Linked DNA regions of Homo sapiens: region 2 is linked to region 1. Evidence: fine-mapped expression QTL. Tissue or cell type: whole blood. Region 1 holds a variant in brackets; the other region holds the start of a gene. All regions are shown on one strand. Distances are from middle to middle.

The links. PIP is the estimated chance that this variant, and not a neighbour inherited with it, causes the effect.
Region 2: it holds the start of SELENON, and the variant in region 1 is fine-mapped to the expression of SELENON in whole blood (INTERVAL, PIP 0.96).

Annotation. Positions count from the first base shown.
Region 1 is chr1:25,701,997-25,704,672 of GRCh38, forward strand. The region is part of intron 2 of MAN1C1 (mannosidase alpha class 1C member 1); the gene reads left to right. Among named protein-coding and RNA genes, the nearest start is that of MAN1C1, 87 kb to the left of the region's middle. RefSeq lists enhancers at 1,523-2,023, 2,024-2,524. The variant G/A (reference allele first, on the strand shown) is at 1,401.
Region 2 is chr1:25,798,644-25,801,319 of GRCh38, forward strand. SELENON (selenoprotein N) reads left to right here and starts at 1,550. Exons shown (of 12, transcript NM_206926.2): 1 at 1,550-1,770; 2 at 2,400-2,517. The coding sequence starts at 1,588. RefSeq lists an enhancer at 744-1,465 and a silencer at 1,275-1,414.

The DNA.
Region 1 (2,676 bases):
TTGCAGTGAGCCTAGATCTCACCGCGGCACTCCAGCCTGGGTGACAGAGCTAGATGCTGTCTCAAAAAATAAATAAGTAAATAAAAGTAAAGCCAAATTAGTTAGTTACATCCCCCAAACCAAGAAGGATAAAATCCCAAACACCCGAGAGGAGGCTAATGCATGACGATCGCCGGCCTAAGAGGATGTCCCCGTGGGGCTGCTTAGAAAGAACTTGAGCACCCAGATGGACCAGGGCAAGCCGCTTCTCATTCTTAGCCAGAGCTGACAGCAGGGCCCACATCGCCCCTGGCAGTGTGGCTTCATCCGAAGGGCCTTGAATTCCCAGGACATGAAACTCGCCCAGATCCAGATGTAAGTACAAAAGTGGGTCCCACAGTCAGTGGAGAGGCACGCTCCCTGGGCTCTCCCAGGCTCTGAGGGTCGGGGCTGCAGCTCTTCCTTCTCCTCCAAGGAGCAAAGCCAGGCAGCTCCTCAGGGCCCATCCCCCCAAAACATACCAGAGTCTACAGCTCAACTCACTGAAATGGGGAGGAAGCAAAACCCTGGAGGGAGGATCCCAGGGATTTGAAGCAGTTAAACAGAAGCACAGGCTTTGGCACCAGGGGGCCTGGTTCACCATTTTCTGGCTGTGTGACCTGGGGCAAGTGAATTCACCTTTCTGTGCCTCAATTTCTTCTGGAAAAATAGGAATTATAGTACCTACCTCATAGGGTAGTTGTGAAAATCCAATTAGTTAATACACTGTGAAGGGCTTAAAGTAGTACCAATAAATAGCAGTGGCTGTCATCATGATTACCATTATCTTTACCATTAGTATTGTCAAAGCTGCCCAGGGAAGCAGGAGAGTTGGGTGGCATCTTTGCGTGCCAGTGACTGCCTATGTAGCGTTGGACAAATCACTTTCCTCACCCTTCCCTGGGACTCAGACTCTGTGAATTGAACAGTTTGGATGAATTTGTGCTGCTCTTCGCCAGGAGGAAGCATCAGAATTGCCTGCAGGGCTTTTGCAAATGTAGACTTCCATGTTCCGTCTCCAGAAATTCTGGTTCATTGGGTCTGGAGCTGGCCCAGGGATCTGCATTAAAAATAGCATCTCTGTTGATGGTTCTGATGCACAACCCAGGTTGGGAGCCACAGTTAACCGGGTTAGGATCCTGAAGTGATTGGTCCCCTTCCCTCACTCCCATTAGCTCAGGTGGTGTTTTAGCAAAGGGGAAGCTCCTGCCCTCTCTGTGGGTGCTGAGGCTGTTGCCTGGGTGGGGGTCCCACTTTACTAGGTGTGGCAGGTCACCAGTTCCACAGGAAGCAGTGGTGGCTGGAGAACAGCCCTGAGGCGTGAGTGGAGCCGGCACATCTAGGAGTTTTCATTCAGCTGATGTTTGGTGAAAGTGGGATCT[G/A]TAGGCTGGGCGCGGTGGCTCACACCTGTAATCCCAGCATTTTGGGAGGCCAAGGCAGGCAGATCACCTGAGGTCGGGAGTTCGAGACCAGCCTGACCAACATGGAGAAACCCCATCTCTACTAAAAATACAAAATTAGCCAGGTGTGGTGGTGCATGTCCGTAATCCCAGCTACTCAGGAGGCTGAGGCAAGAGAATTGCTTGAACTTAGGAAGTGGAGGTTGCAGTGAGCCGAGATCGTGCCATTGCACTCCAGCCTGGGCAACAAGAGCGAAACTCTGTCTAAAAAAAAAGAAATGAAAGTGGGATCTGCAGATGGGAGGAGAACAACTGTGAAAATGAGGTGTCCTCTGGCCATGTGATGCCTGGGGGCTAATCCTACCTTCAAGGTATCACAGGAGATTCTCCTCACTGCTTCTGAAGTGTGATTGAAAGGGGCTGAGGTGTGGATGGATGTCAGCCCTGCTTTCCTTCATGGCCACCCAGAAGCTTTTGGATGCTTTGGGTAGGACAAACCTCCAAGGAGCTTTTGGGTCACAAAGGGCCCACCTTCTTGGGCACTGGCGGGATCTGTCTGCCCAGTTCCTGGTTGCCCAAGCCCATCCCATCATCCAGCCTGCCCACAGACGCCCCTGCCACATGCTTCTGGCTGCCTGTCCCTTCATCCCGGCTCCTGTCTCTCCTCGTCTCCCTGATCAATAGCAACCAGCCAGGAAAGCAGTCCCGCAGTGTTTCAGGCCCACTCCTTTAATCTCTCCCGAGGCTGAGAACAGCCTCTTTCTAGCCACCCAGCCCCTTTATTAAACTTCCTTCCTGCCCCCAGTCCTGCTGCTGCCTTTGTGAGGTAAGTTGGACTTGTGTTTCTGTCTTTGGAGAACAGCTCTGCAATAGAAATGGCTTCCTGAAGGCAGGAGCTGCCTCTGAGCTGCCTCCAAGCCAGCCTGGGGCCTGCAGTACAGATGCTGGGAATGGGCGGCCGACAGAACCAAGCCATATCCTATCCTTAGACCCAATCCCAGACAGCAGGACCATGTGGCTCCCAATGTGGAGATAAGAGGGAAGCAGTAGCGACATCTGGGCATCACTTGGCAGCGTGGCTTTGGCTGCTCAGCACGTGCTTGCTAGAGAATCCCTGATGGCTGTTATGGCTTACACATTTAACCACTTCCCTTTGGTACATGTGTAGAGGTGCTGGGTAAGCATCTTGTCAACTTTAACACAGCTGACAAAGTTATGACACCAAGAATGCTTAGACTTTGCAGTTTTCCCCGAACTC
Region 2 (2,676 bases), 97 kb after region 1:
ACAGTTGGAAGCCTTCAGAAGCCAACGCCAGATGTCAGGCTCTCAGTGGGTCCCTCTAAGGACACTGGGGCCAGAGCACAGGGCAAGGGTTGGGTGGGCCCACAACTCTGGAAGGTCCCTGGGAGTCATTCATCTGACAGACACTGAGGAGTGCCCACGATGTGCCACGCCCTGTGTGGGCTCTGGGAAGGCCTCACCTGGTGCTGCCATGGCTGGCCACCAAAGAAGAACAGGATGGGCAGTGGAGGCAGGACCCCACCCCCAACTCAGTCGACCGGGTCATCCCGTGGGAAGCCTGGGAGGCAGGATGGCAGGAGATTTGGACCCATAGACCTGGGTGCCAGAGGTCAGGCTTCTTCATTTGAAAACCAGGGAAGCAGTCTCTACCTCACAAGGTGGCTTGAGAACAGAGTGAGAGAATGTGTAAATCACCCCACCTGAAGTCCAGCACATGGGCAGAGCTCAGCATCCTTTGGATCCCTCAGGCCTGACAGGTGCCCCTGCGCTGGGGGGGTTGGTGGGGCTCTGCAAAGGCAGGCACTGCTCACCTCTGGGCTCAGAATTCTTGTCTAGAGGCTTCTGCAGCTGCCACCCTCGCCTGAGAAAATGCAGGTAGAGACATCTAGAGCCACCCCATGGTAACTGGGGGCTTTGAAAGAATGGAAGAGAGCCCCAAGGAACCAAGGTCCTGGGGATTGACAGGCATGAAAATATGTCCTCAACACCACCCACCCCTATTTCCAAGGCCCTCCTCCAAGCATGCCGCATGCTGTTCTCCAGAAAAGCCAGGGCCTCTGGTAGCTCCAGCTGCTGAGGGGCTGGAGCCTCGCCTTCCCCTCACCAGACCAGAGCCCGGAGGGTGGGGGTTGGGGGGCTCTTTTAACTCCTTGGTGGAGATGAGGAAATTTGGGCCCAGGGAAGTGCAGGTTCAGAGCTGCACCTGCTGTGCCTGGAACAAGGCCAATCCCCATAACCCATGCATCTGCGGAGGTGGCCCCCCAACTGCACATGAGGGGAACAGGGGCTGGGCTTTCTTTTTAATTTGTCTTGCTCTAGATGACAGAGGAACTTTTAGAAAACTGGTGGGATAAGGATGGACGGATGCCCCTCAGCAGTCTCTGGCCTCGTGCCCGGCTGCCAGCAGAGGAGGACACGAGGCCTCAGAGGCCCCCGACGCCCCTTCTCCAGGAAAGCACAGGGTGTGTGGCTTCTCCCCAGCCCCTTCTTTGTCCCAGTCCCCAGTCTGGAATCGCTCTCTGGGCTGGGCCAGGCAAGTGGGCCGCAGAGGCCTGGCTTAGCTTTGGGAACGGAAGCACGGGAAGGGGCGCGGAGAGGCAGGAAGCGGCCTGGGGAGGCTGGGGTGGCCGGGACTACGGACCCGACCGCATAGACGCGATCAGCCCCTCTTGGCGTTCCGGTGTAGCTGACCCCGCCCCGGGCTCTGGCCGGGCTGCGAAGCCGGGAACCAGCGACCCCCCGCCCAGCCCCTGCGGCCGCCCCGCCCCTCCCCGCCCCGGCCGCCCCGCCCCCGGCCCCGCCCCGCTCTTTCGCTTCCCGGGCCGCCGGCAGCCGCCGCCAGCCGCAGCCATGGGCCGGGCCCGGCCGGGCCAACGCGGGCCGCCCAGCCCCGGCCCCGCCGCGCAGCCTCCCGCGCCACCGCGCCGCCGCGCCCGTTCCCTGGCGCTGCTCGGAGCCCTGCTGGCCGCCGCCGCTGCCGCCGCCGTCCGGGTCTGCGCCCGCCACGCCGAGGCCCAGGCGGCCGCGCGGCAGGTCCGGGCCCGAGCTGGCTGGGGCGGGAGCGCGGGAGCGGGGACTGAAGGACCCAGCCTCGGCAGCAGGGGGGACATGGGCATGGACGAGTCGGGGGAGGCGGAGGGCGGAGGGGGACTGGACGGGAGGGAGCACGGGAAGGAGGGGACACGGGAGGCGGGTGGGGGGTGCCTGGGGCCGGGCTGATGGGGGGAAGGCGAACGGAGGCCAGTGTGGGGCTGGGACAGACTGGAGGGGTCTCTATCCAGAGGGGTGACCTGGACACAGTGAAGCTGGTTCCCGCAGAGTCTTAAAGGGTTACTGGGGAGCCCTGGGACAGTGAGGAGGGGACACAGGAGAGGACAGAAGGTGCAGGAGGAACAGGGCCAAGCAGCCAGGGCCAGGCGGAAGGCGGAGTGGGGACAAACTGGGAGGGGGCAGTCGGACCAGACAGTGGATGAGCAGGGACCAGGAGGGACTGGAGGCTCTGGGGCAGTTCAGAGGCAACATTTGCACAGATGGACCGGGAGGCACTGGGAGAGCTCAGGAAGATGGTGGGAGAAGGGGCTCCATGCGGAAGCAACTGCCTGTTGGGGACCAGGAGACCAGGCCGCCAAATGGTGCCCAGCCCAGTCTCTCCTCCCAAGCAGGAACTGGCGCTGAAGACCCTGGGGACAGATGGCCTTTTTCTCTTTTCCTCCTTGGACACTGACGGGGATATGTACATCAGCCCTGAGGAGTTCAAACCCATTGCTGAGAAGCTAACAGGTACCAGGAGAGACTGGCGGCTGGGGAGGAGGGCGCCTTGGCCAACGGTGTCTTCACTGAGCAGGAGCGGCCGTCTGGAGTGGAGGGAAGCTCGTGGGATCTCAGAGGCCCTGGACTCCTCCCAGCTCTGACACTTTGTAGCTGGTGGCTTGGGCGAGC